2 linked regions of the Homo sapiens genome follow. The protein of the gene in region 2 purifies or fractionates together with the protein of the main gene of each other region. This does not show direct contact. Each region holds a gene or a part of one and is shown on either strand. Other genes may lie near its edges.

Region 1 (2,427 bases), on a different chromosome or scaffold from region 2:
GAATTTCGCTCTTGTTGTCCAGGCTGGAGTGTAATGGCACAATCTCGGCTCACTGCAACCTCTACCTCCTGGGTTCAAGCAATTCTCCTGCCTCAGCCTCCCAAGTAGCTGGGATTATAGGCATGCACCACCATGCCCAGCTAATTTTTCTATTTTTAGTAGAGATGGGGTTTCACCATGTTAGTCAGGCTAGTCTTGAACCCCTGACCTCAGGTGATCCACCCGCCTCAGCCTCCCAAAGTGCTGGGATTACAGGCATGAGCCACTGTGCCTGGCCTTCAACTGCTCTTTCTTAAATCTTATTGGGAGGACTGAGGGGTTACCATCAAAGAATGTGCGTTATGTTTAAGCACCTTTCAAGCCTGCATGGACCCAAAAGGGGGGATTTTCATTTTTACTTATCCTTGAAATGTCTTCTGACTCCCTGGCTCTTTTGCTTTTCCTGAAGACACAGACCAGACCTAAGATGTCCCTCCCCTATAAGAAAGACCTCATCCTGTGTTTTCTCTCTCTTCTTCTCAGGCAGGAAAAACATATGAACAATTAAAAGAAGAGCTGGGAGATGCTGCTGCTATCATGCGAATCACTGCTGTGAGTCGGGTTCGCTCTTGGGAGAAGCCAGCCACATGGGCAACCAGAGCCAGAGAACACACAAATGCTACAGATGCTCACAGGCAAAACTCATGTCCTTAGTATTACCATAGTTGTCTGTTTTGATGTAAAGACTTTTTGTAATCAATAGAAAAGCAGGTCTCAGAGCCAAGTTCCTTATTTTCCTGACTTCCAGATTTTCAAACAGACTTGCTGTGTAAAAACAACAAAAATGGGGCCGGGCGCGGTGGCTCATGCCTGTAATCCCAGCACTTTGGGAGGCCAAGGCGGGTGGATCACCTAAGGTCAGGAGTTTGAGACCAGCCTGACTAATATGGTGAAACCCCGTCTCTACTAAAAATATGAAAATTAGCCGGCCGTGGTGGCATGCGCCTGTAGTCCCAGCTACTCGGGAGGCTGAGACAGGAGAACTGCTTGAACCCAGGAAGCGGAAGTTGCTGTGAGCTGAGATGGCACCACTGCACTCCAGCCTGGGCAACAGAGCGAGAGTCCGTCTCAAAAACACAACAACAAAAAAATGAATATTTGTTTTATTATTCAACTCTGCCGTTTAAGGAGAGATTAAAGTCATTGGCAGTATTTTTCAGAAATAAGCTTCTAACCCAAATGACATTTTTATTCATTTCTGACAGTGAAGTCCACAGAAACTTAGGCCATTTACACCTATTTTAATGGTTAAAAGAAGTGGAGCCTCTAGCCAGGAATCCAGCAGTTCTTTAACCTCAGGAGGAGTGCATGGCACCAGGTGTTCAAACCATCTGGCAATTCTGTCCTTTGTGCTCTACAAACTCAGATTCCAAAGCTAATGTTGATGTAGTATCTTTAAATTGTATTTAAGTAGGACTACAACCTAAAGTCATTTAAAGGCTGGAAATGCAGGGCTAAATAAAAGTACCAAGAGAAGGTATGTGATCCCAATATTCAAATGAGATCCAGACACAAGATGTATGCCAAACTAGCTATACAGGACTTGCCTTGGACTTACTGAATCAGCTTTCCCAAGAACAACCCCAAAATCTGAATATTTTCTATTCCCAGATGATTCTGACATGCAGCCAGGTTTGGGGAGCATTGTTATCAAAGATGATTACAGAGGGTGAAGTGGCATAAGTCAAAATGTTAAATATTATACACATTCAGAACTGTAACCACACAGACACTGAGGAGTCTTTTCCCTGTGCCTACATTCTTATCTTACCTAGGACATGAAGAATGCAACCCTCTCCCTGAATTCTAATGACAGTGAGCCAAAATATTACCCTATAGCAGTTCTGTTGAAAAACCAGAATCAGGAGCTGCCTGAGGATGTAAACCCTGCCAAAAAGGAGGTGAGTGGCTGAAGGAACTGTGTCTGTTGGAAGTGGAGCTCTCCGTGAGTAAAAAACTCAGCTCAGCAAATGGCCTAGGACAGCTCCGGCACATTGTAGCCGCTCAATGGACATCTGAGCTACCTAGGAACTCAAACCAAAAAAAACCAGGGTTCTTTCTTGATTCTTTTCTCTCCACCTACATCAGTCTATCAGCTAGCTTCTGTTCACTCCTCTTCCATTTCTCTGCTACTAGTCTAGTCCAGCTATCATGGACTACTTACTACAATCCAACTGGTTTCCACCTGTTCCTACAATCCGTTCCCCACACAACAGCCAAAGAGATCTTTAAAATATATGGCACGGCCCTGTTTAAAACACCTGGAATAGCTTCCCACTACATTTAAAAAAAGAATGTGAAGGCCTATACAATCTGGCCCCTGCCTAGCTCTCTGATTTCATTTCATATACCAATACCCTCATCACTCACCACCCTTCAGCCAGTACA
Region 2 (3,500 bases):
TAAACATCTCTTTATTGATTCGACTTTTTTTAGTGTATACATAAAGTGGTTTTTGAAATGCAAAACCACCCAAGATTACTACATACTGTCACTGTAATCATAAAAAGACATTTAAGATATTATTACTTTATTCATTCATGTTATATAGCTTAGACTTCATCACTCAGATTAGTATATATACCAGCTTGGCTTCTTCACTTTGGGAAAAATATAATAAATAATGCACAATAAAACAACAATAAAAAAATCTATTGGCATGGCTTAACATTATCCTGAAATACAATGCTTTTTTTTTTTTTTTTTTTTTTTGAGATGGAGTCTTGCTCTGTCGCCCAGGCTGGAGTGCAGTAGCACGATCTCGGCTCACTGCAACCTCCACCTCCTGGGTTCAAGCAATTCTTCTTCTTCAGCCTCCCTAGTAGCTGGGATGACAGGCGTGTGCCACCATGCCCAGCTAATTTTTTTTGTATTTTTAGTAGAGACAGGGTTTTGCCATGTTTGCCAGGCTGGTCTCAAACTCCTGACCTCAGGTGATTCACCTGCTTTGGCCTCCCAAAGTGCTGGAATTACAGGTGTGAGCCACCGTGCCCGGCCTACAATGCCTTATAATTATCTTTTCTTTCACACAGTTCTACATTCTCTCCATCAGGTGTGGGAATAACAAGTATGTGAATGGACTGAAAAGAAAATACCAATTTATGAAAGAATGTTTCTACCTCAGAAAGTTGATGTAAGTATTAAGTAAATTTACAAATCCTCTACCAGAGTGCTGGCACGGAATTGCTCATTACATGGTAGCTACTGTTACCAATTCATCTCTGCTGAGTTCAGTGGCAATACAAGAATAAAATATGTCACTTTGGGAGGCTGAGATGTCAGATCACAAGGTCAGGAGATCGAGACCATCCTGGCTAACATGGTGAAACCCAGCCTCTACTAAAAATACAAAAAATTAGCCGGGCGTGGTGGCGGGCGCCTGTAGTCCCAGCTACTCGCTACTCAGGAGGCTTAGGAAGGAGAATGGCATGAACCTGGGAGGCAGAGCTTGCAGTGAGCTGAGACTGTGCAGCCTGGGCGACAGAGCGAGACTCTGTCTCAAAATAACAATAAAATATGCTAGCAGAAACAAACATACCGGTCCTGCATACAAAATAAAAGGGTTTCTTTCAGGCCAGGCGTGGTGGCTCAGGCCTGTAATCCCAGCACTTTTGGAGGCTGAGGCAGGTGGAACACGAGGTCAGGAGATGGAGACCATCCTAGCTAACACGGTGAAACCCCATCTCTATTAAAAATACAAAAAATTAGCCAGGTGTGGTAGCACACACCTGTAGTCCCAGCTACTTGGGAAGCTGAGGCAGCAGAATCGCTTGAACCCGGGAGGCAGAGGTTTCAGTGAGCCGAAATTGTGCCACTGCACTCCAGCCTGGGCGTCAAGAGTGAGACTCTGTCTCAAAAAAAAAAACAAAAAACAAAAAACAAAAAAAGGGTGGGGGAGGTTATTTCAAAGCTGCACATGTAGTACCTTAAATGTATGGGGCAACCAAGAAGAGGCAATAAAAAGTACCAAGTAAGAAAACAGTACACATTTTCTAAACAAAATTAAACCTCTGACTCTCCCAGCCAAAGTCAATCTCACTCTCCTCTGCGTATCCACAGCACCGTTAATCCTTCTGGTAGCACCCATAACTAACATGCACATTAAAAAATTTATTTTGTCACTGTTTTAGTAAGGATACAAACCCTCTACTAAAATTTACATTTTTGTACACCTTTGAATTAGCATGGTGTGGTAAGTAAAGCAATGCAAGTGAAGTGAGAGTTGTAAATTTATGACTGTGCACTCAGAGATCCTCAGTTTCCTCAACTCTAAAATAGTAACACTGACTTCCATAAAATTTCTGCTCCCTATCTACTTTAAAGAGCTGTTCCTGAGGATCAAGTTGATTTTCCAGGGGTAAAGGCTATATAAATTATAAAGCAATACATAAACAAAAGGTATAATTATTTTGTTTCAGTGTTTTTGAACATGTATTCAGTAAAACTAGATGGCTTAAGGATGACCTTGGCTACAAAATCTATTCAAACTACTTGTGTACCAAGAAGCACAGTGATACACACACTTTGTTTACTGCAAAAAATGCATTTCTAGAAATGAGAGTACTGTCTGAACAAGCACTATACAAAATCTACAGCATGGTCCCTATGGAGCTGCAGGTATTTTAAGTTGGTAAGTACCCTTTACATCCCCTGAAGACACAGGTATTTTTGGCCGTGATTCTCTGACTACTTTTCTCATAACATTTATATAACAGTCATTACTTTAAAGGTCGCAATAATATTTAAGATGACCTTTATTTTGGTAAAGAACTGCTAGATGAGTTTCAAGTCAAAGCTAAGTCTGGGGGTGAGGGGTGGGGAAGAACTGCTAGAGATTCCTGATCCCTCTGGTCCCCTGACCATGTCCTTGACACACTCCTCAAGCCTCCATATTGTGAGCATTTCTTTGTTCAATGCCTAAACAACTTGGAAAGTTATTTCAATGAATAACAGAGGCAAATTATATTTGAGTTTGTATATTGAAGCCCGTTAATTGACTTCATCTAGATGTTTCACAGACAGCTAAGTTCAACATACTGCTTTATTTCCACTGCCATCAGTAAGCCACCAAACTCCAGAGCAAGACCTCCGAGGCCCCACTTAAGTTTAATTCTATTGACTTCTCAGAGCTCATCTCTATTAGTCTCTCCCTTGCTCACTCTGCACCTGATATACTGGCCTCTCTTCTGGCCCTCAAATAAATCAAGCTCATTTCCTTCTTAGGGACTTTGCATATACTCTCCAGTCTAAGTGGGGATGCCTTTGCACCCAGATCTTTGCATAGTTGATTCCTTTGTAATATTCTGGTCTGAGTTCAAATCTCTCCTCTTTAGAAATGCCATTCCTGACCATCCCATCTAAAAGCTCCCCTCAATATATCACTGTATCATCACCTAGTTTTGTCTTATTTGTCTTAAATTACTTTGTCCTTTTATAATTTGGTCTTCACCTCACTTCTGAAGGTAAAGTGCCATGAAAGTAGGGATCTTGCCTATTATGTTCACTGCTGTATCTCTAGTACCGTAACAGTGCCTAATAACTCAATAACAGTGCCACTCAATAGCATATGCTTAATAAATCAAAGTTTAAAAATAAAAAATGATTTCATCTTCCAGTCTTGCTTCTGCTAATGTCCCTGTTTCAGTAAATGCTACCCCTATTCTCCTTGTTATCCACACTGAAAACCTTAAAATGTCATCTTTTAGGCTACTTCTTTACTCATTACATCCAGTGATGACCAAATTTTGAAGACACTACTGCCTAACAGCTCTTACGCTAACCTGTTTCCAAGCAAGATTATCATCTTGATCCAAGCCCTTGTTCAATCTGTGCCTCTACCAACCTAAATTGAGCTTTCCCTCCTTTCTCATCCTTCACACTGCTGCCAGAAAAATAAAAAAGTA

Evidence for each region. Proteins that work in one complex are often made in the same cells at the same time.
Region 1: the proteins of SP4 (region 2) and AVIL purify together in Homo sapiens (affinity purification with mass spectrometry; one large-scale study listed by BioGRID and IntAct). This does not show direct contact.

The regions. Positions count from the first base shown.
Region 1 is NC_000012.12:57,799,308-57,801,734, reverse strand, and holds part of AVIL (advillin), read left to right. Parts: intron 1-522; coding exon 523-591; intron 592-1,814; coding exon 1,815-1,940; intron 1,941-2,427.
Region 2 is NC_000007.14:21,473,083-21,476,582, reverse strand, and holds part of SP4 (transcription factor Sp4), read right to left. Parts: intron 1-3,500. UniProt on the Homo sapiens protein: Binds to GT and GC boxes promoters elements. Probable transcriptional activator.